2 separate regions of the Homo sapiens genome follow, and region 2 is reported to be linked to region 1. The links are microRNA targets in miRTarBase. Many come from high-throughput screens and were not tested one by one. Region 1 holds a microRNA gene; the other region holds the end of a gene's coding sequence.

Region 1 (3,128 bases):
GGCATGTTATAATAGCTCATGACTGTAGTCTTAGCTGCTCAGGAGGCTGAGGCAGGAGGATGGCTTGAACCCAGGAGTTTGAGGCTGCAGTGAGCTATGATTGCATTACTGCACCCCAGCCTGGGCAACAGATTGAGACCCTGTCTCAAAAAAAGAAATAATCCTATGATTGGCTAGTGACACTCACCCAGAAAAAAAAAAAGAAAAAAAAAAACCCTATGAGATAGGTAGTATCATTACACATGAGGAAACTGAGGCCGAGAGAGATTGAGCCTTGCTCAAGGTTATATTGTTAAGTGGCAGAGCCAGTGTACTGAACTGTCATAATATATCACCTATAACAACTACCTGACTTCCCACTGAGCATTGCAATAAGGTTCTTTTCAGGGCCTGGATGTTCTAATCTTTTGATCTTGCTAGTCTTAACCTCTTTTTGGAATCTACATTATGGTTCCTGTTCCCAGTGCTCCCCCACTTTTTGTTTGTTTGTTTGTTTTTGAGACAGGGTCTCGTTCTGTTGCCCAGACTGGAGTATAGTAGCACAATCATAGCTCACTGCAGCCTCGACCTCCTGGCCTCAAGTGATCCTCCCACCTTGGCCTCCCAAAGTGCTAGGATTGCAGGCATGAGCTACCATGCCTGGCCCCTAGTGCCTTTATTTATTTATTTTTACACAAGTGTTTAGAAAGCCAAAGACCCAGTGCCTTTTGGAGATGGTTTATGGACTTCTGTGTCTCTGCTCCTTTTGTTCCTTATACTACACGTAAGTGCTCAGATTTTTTTTTTTTTTTTTTTTGAGACGGTGTTTCACTCTGTCACCCAGGCTGGAGTGGTATGGCACAGTCTCGTGATCTCAGCTCATGCAACCTCTGCCTCCTGGGTTCAAGCAATTCTCCTGCCTCAGCCTCCTGAGTAGCTGGGATTACAGGCATGTGCCGCCACATCCGGCTAATTTTGTATTTTTGGTAGAGATGGGGTTTCACCATGTTGGCCAGGCTGGTCTCGAACTCCTGACCTCAGGTGATCCACCCACCTCAGTCTCTGAAAGTGTGATTATAGGCGTGAGCCACCACGCCGGCTTTTTTTTTTTTTTTTTTTTTGAGGCAGAGCCTTGCTCTGTTTCCCAGGGTGGAGAACAGTGGTGTGGTCTAGGCTCACTGCAACCTCTGCCTCCTGGGTTCAAGCGATTCTCGTGCCTCAGCCTCCTAAGTAGCTGGGATTATAGGCATGTGCCACCACACCTGGCTAATTTTTGTATTTTTAGTAGAGATGAGGTTTCACCATGTTGGCCAGGCTGGTCTTGAACTCCCAGCCTCAAGTGATTCACCTGCCTGTACCTCCCAAAGTGCTGGGATTAAAGGCGTGAGCCACTGCACCCAGCCTCAGATTGTATTTATTTTAAAACCTATTACTTACTTTGCAAAGCTCTTTTACATACCTTGTGTTATTTGATTCCAACAACTCAGAGCGGTCCAGTAGGATGGATAATGTTCTTATTTTACAGATGAGGAAACTGAGATACAGGAAGGTGAGTTACAGAACTCTGGCTACTGTTCTGCTCATCTCCCAGCCCCGTGAATTTTCATCTCTCTCTTCCCCCAGTTTATTTATGGAGATTCTTAGTTCCTGTTCAGATTGTGATGAGATCCAATTCATGGAAGATGGATCCTGGTGCCCAATGAAACCCAAGAAGGAGGCATCTGAGGTTTGCCCCCCGCCAGGGTATGGGCTGGATGGTGAGTGACCCCCTGTTCCCCAGCTAAGCTAAATCTTGGATGGCCTCTTCTCTGAGACGTAGTCTTCTTAATACCCACAGGCCTCCAGTACAGCCCAGTCCAGGGGGGAGATCCATCAGAGAATAAGAAGAAGGTCGAAGTTATTGACTTGACAATAGAAAGCTCATCAGATGAGGAGGATCTGCCCCCTACCAAGAAGCACTGTTCTGTCACCTCAGCTGCCATCCCGGCCCTACCTGGAAGCAAAGGGTATGAGAAAATAGGCTGAGTCTACAGCAAAACGGACAGGGGAAGAAGTCAGGATTGCTTTCTGATCATTGGACAAAGCCTGGGGCAAGAGAAATGTGGAGGGGACAGAGAGGGAACCTGGGGACCTGAGCTGGGTGAGGGCATCTGTGGTTTGCTGGCTGCCTCAGCTCCTCTCTACCCACAGAGTCCTGACATCTGGCCACCAGCCATCCTCGGTGCTAAGGAGCCCTGCTATGGGCACGTTGGGTGGGGATTTCCTGTCCAGTCTCCCACTACATGAGTACCCACCTGCCTTCCCACTGGGAGCCGACATCCAAGGTATGACATGGGTCATAAGATGGACCCTGCACTGCCACACCCTCCCCAGAGCTACATCAGAACCCCTGTTCCTTCTCAAAGCCTCCTGCTTCTCCTGCAAGGGGCCACAGTCCACAGTGCTTTGTCTTTTGGTGGTAAAGGGGTCAGATAGGAGGTTAATTTTGATTTTTCTTTTCCTGCCAGGTTTAGATTTATTTTCATTTCTTCAGACAGAGAGTCAGGTAAGTGGTTCTTTCTTCAGAAGGTCTCAGATCTCTGAAGCTTCCTTTCTAGACACTGATGGGGCCCCTCCCTCTCTTATGATCTCTGGGGATGTAAATCTGCTTTCCCGTGAGGGCAGTGGGGTGTAGGTATCTTATTATCTCCTCAGCCCCACTGGTAGTTCCTGAGATTCCTACTTAGGCCTCCTTCCTAGATCCCCTGTTACTTTTCTGCCCTGGCCTACTCACCCCTACCCCCGTGTGCACTTAGAGCACCATGCCTGCTCTAACCGGACATTCCACACATTTCAGACGCCCACAAAGCCAAGAACCTAACAAGTTGGAGGAGCTCTCTCAAGGCAGGGAAAGGGGAAGGGTGTAGGGAAGTAGGGGAAAGAGGGAGAGGCTCTCCTGCTTCTCAAGAGAATACCTTCGGATCCACAGGGGTTGATTGCTCTCATACGGCATTTCTGAGATGAGTGACTGGGAGGTGGGGAAGTCGGGATTGAGATCTTAAACTATGCCCTTGATTCTTCCTAGCACTATGGCCCCTCTGTCATCACCTCACTAGATGAACAGGATGCCCTTGGCCACTTCTTCCAGTACCGAGGGACCCCTTCTCACT
Region 2 (3,128 bases), not on the chromosome of region 1:
TGCACTTCACCATTGATGGGGTGGATACCCATTACTTTGTGAAACCAGGACCTTCAGAAGGTGACCTGGCCATCCTGGGCCTCAGTGGGGGGCGGCGAACCCTGGAGAATGGGGTCAACGTCACTGTGTCCCAGATCAACACAGTACTTAATGGCAGGACTAGACGCTACACAGACATCCAGCTCCAGTACGGGGCACTGTGCTTGAACACACGCTACGGGACAACGTTGGATGAGGAGAAGGCACGGGTCCTGGAGCTGGCCCGGCAGAGAGCCGTGCGCCAAGCGTGGGCCCGCGAGCAGCAGAGACTGCGGGAAGGGGAGGAAGGCCTGCGGGCCTGGACAGAGGGGGAGAAGCAGCAGGTGCTGAGCACAGGGCGGGTGCAAGGCTACGACGGCTTTTTCGTGATCTCTGTCGAGCAGTACCCAGAACTGTCAGACAGCGCCAACAACATCCACTTCATGAGACAGAGCGAGATGGGCCGGAGGTGACAGAGAGGACCAAGGACTTCTTGCCAAAGACAGCTACTCTTTTGTGGCCGCATACCTGACTGTGTTGTACTTTTAAAAAAATGATTTTTTAACAAGTGCAGAAACAAAAAGATACTGGTTGCATTGTAACTCATGCAACATCCTTTTTTTTAGAAAAGAAAAACACAGATTTGGCCTTCGCACATTTTTTGCAAAGAACAGAAGGTATTTTTTTCTGTAGTGTGATCACAATGAAAACTTTATTGTCTTTTGTTCCCTTTTTCCTTGAGGATTTTTCCCTTGTCGTTTGGGGTATGTATCTCCTCTCTGAGATGCATCTCCTGGGGTGTGTCCTCGTCTGTCCCTAGGTACCCAGTGTGATGTGGGACATGAATGTCTGTGCTAACTTGTCTCATGTGCAACCCTTTCTTCTTCGACTGGGGTCGGGCAGGAGTAAAGGGAGTGATGGGCCAGTACAACACCCCTTCCAAGGGGGCCTGGGAGGAGGGTCTGTAGGACCTGAGGCTCCTTGGCAGGGCTCCTGCAGAAGAGTGGTGGATTTCTTCTCACCTTGTTCTCTGCCTCCAGAGGATCATAGATGGCTTCATCTTGCTCCAGGGAATTTCATGGTGTTGTTCAGCACCTTTTTTAAGCTGCCCCAAACTCCTGTTCAAGCTTTCTATTTTGATGCTGAATGAAACCCCCTACCACTTTTGCAAATCCTGTGTAGTTGTCGGTGCCACCCCCATGCTGGGATAGAGAAAGTGTCTCCCAGGTCCTTTCCCCCAGACCAGTGACATAACATCCTGGGCTCAGAGTCCCATCCTCCCGGGAGGGAAAGCACCCAGGATGCCTGTGATTGGTTGGTCCTCCATGATGTTCCTGTTCATCTCCTCCTTTCTCCCAAAGCCAGATGTGAGAACGAGCACTGCACAGCAAGCCTTCAATGTGGGCACCATGTCCACAGAACAGAAGGCCACCCATGGCAAAGGCATGGCAGTGGTGGCGAGGGCACCAGCCTGCCTTCCGAGGCAAAGCCCTCTCTCTATGACTTTGAGTATCTTCCCTCCACCACTCAGCCGCCACCACTGAGACGTAGGAATGTGGAGGGAGGTGCTTGGTGGCCTTTGATTCTGGAAAAATGCTTAACAAAAAAAGCCAGCCAAAGAGAGGAAGGCATAAGCTAAGCATCCTTCTAACCAGTTCCCAAAGTCCCATCTGCCTCCATGTACCAGCTGATCGCAGAGCTGGACTGGGGCAGGCTGGGCTTCCAGGAAATTCCTGAAGTTCTGAAACAGCTTCCCCTCTAGAGAAGCCCACCCAATGTGTTTTTTAGTGACAGGAAGAAAGGAGGGAAGAGCTGATGTGGTGTGGCCTGCCCATATCATACAACCCCACCAGGAGCAGGGCAGTTCCCAAGGTGGGTGCCCGTAGATCTGGGAGGCCAGGCTGGCATGATTCCTGTGAAGAACTGTGCCTGTGTCGTCAGGGAGAGGCCTGAGCCCTCTCAGAAGCAGGGACAGCCCACACCTGAAGAGCACGCCCAAGCTGAGGCAGCAGCCAGCAGGCTGGGGGAGCAGTGAGGGCAGGGGGAGTCACAGCCAGAGCTGGGAGCCCCTTGTTCAAGGATTCCATTCCTGGTTCATCCGCCTAATTACCATTGTCATTACCACTCACAGGAGGCTCTGGGAGATGGGAGGGGAAGCCAAATGCTTCCTTTTAAGCTGGGCTTCTTAGAAAATGGAACTTTTATGGGTTACATTTACATTAAGTGTGGAAAATGAATTCTGAGTCTGAGCTATTCCCCGTGGAAACCTTGTTGGACTGATAAGCTCATGGCACCTCTATAGCCTTACTCACATAGTCTTCAGAATATTACACAAGTTAATGAAACTGAGAAGGTCTGACTGCATGAGGATCGGAGCAGCATGTAGTCTGGGTTCTGCCTGGCAGAGGGAGGCAACCAAAACTTCTTGGGGAGAGGAGATTTCGCCTTAACGTCATCCCACTGGGATTAGAGGATGTGTTTCGCTAAGTGCTCTTCCTGTTTCCAAAAAAAAAGCCACCCTGCTGCAGCAGTGCGCTTTGGCCTGCTTGTCCACTGGTTGCCCATTGCCCCTGGATCCAGAGCTCTACTGAGTCAGATACAGTGCTCTGCAGGCCTGCTGTGGGAGGCATGAGCTGGAGATGGGGGCTCCCATCTGGCAGGATCATTCTTGGATGAGATGGAAAACAGTTTGGCCTGAAGAACACAAGTTTTGTCCTCCAGAAGGGACTTACGCCTCTCAAAATGTACTCTTCATACCAAGGGCCCTTGGGCAAAGTGCTCCTGCCCAGTTGATCAGTCCCATCCTGGCTGCCTGACATCAGTGAAGACCTGCTGGGGATGTCTGCTCAGAGGTCAGGAACGGCATGCGGTCCACAGGAACCAGCTCCCTACGCTTCCCCCACGCCCTGTCCCTCCTCCACAGCCCCCTCCCCAAAGGAATAGGGTGGACTTTTAGGGATCAAAAACAGAATTATTGGGTGTTTCATTTATTTTTTTCTTTCTTTCTTTTTTTTTTCATAGAGATGGGGTCTCACTATGTTGCCCAGGCTGTTCTCAAACTCCTGGCCTCAGGCGATCCACCTTGGCCTCCTGAAGTGCTGGGGTTACAG

Evidence for each region. The annotated mature microRNA hsa-miR-6736-3p reads UCAGCUCCUCUCUACCCACAG and lies in region 1 at 2,149-2,169, shown strand. An mRNA with a match to its seed (bases 2 to 7 or 8) in the 3' UTR can be bound and repressed. Matches are read on the target gene's strand: a 7mer-m8 pairs with bases 2 to 8, a 7mer-A1 pairs with bases 2 to 7 and ends in A, and an 8mer does both.
Region 2: miRTarBase lists TENM4 as a target of hsa-miR-6736-3p. Seed matches in the 3' UTR shown: 7mer-A1 at 1,828-1,834.

Annotation. Positions count from the first base shown.
Region 1 is chr1:145,849,628-145,852,755 of GRCh38, reverse strand. It overlaps MIR6736 (microRNA 6736), which reads left to right and starts at 2,111; the gene lies at 2,111-2,169. PIAS3 (protein inhibitor of activated STAT 3) reads left to right here. Exons shown (of 14, transcript NM_006099.3): 10 at 1,603-1,736; 11 at 1,817-1,985; 12 at 2,170-2,303; 13 at 2,487-2,524; 14 at 3,044-3,128. RefSeq lists an enhancer at 1,876-3,075.
Region 2 is chr11:78,655,421-78,658,548 of GRCh38, reverse strand. TENM4 (teneurin transmembrane protein 4) reads left to right here. Exons shown (of 34, transcript NM_001098816.3): 34 at 1-3,128. The coding sequence ends at 491. Among named protein-coding and RNA genes, the nearest start is that of NARS2, 82 kb to the right of the region's middle.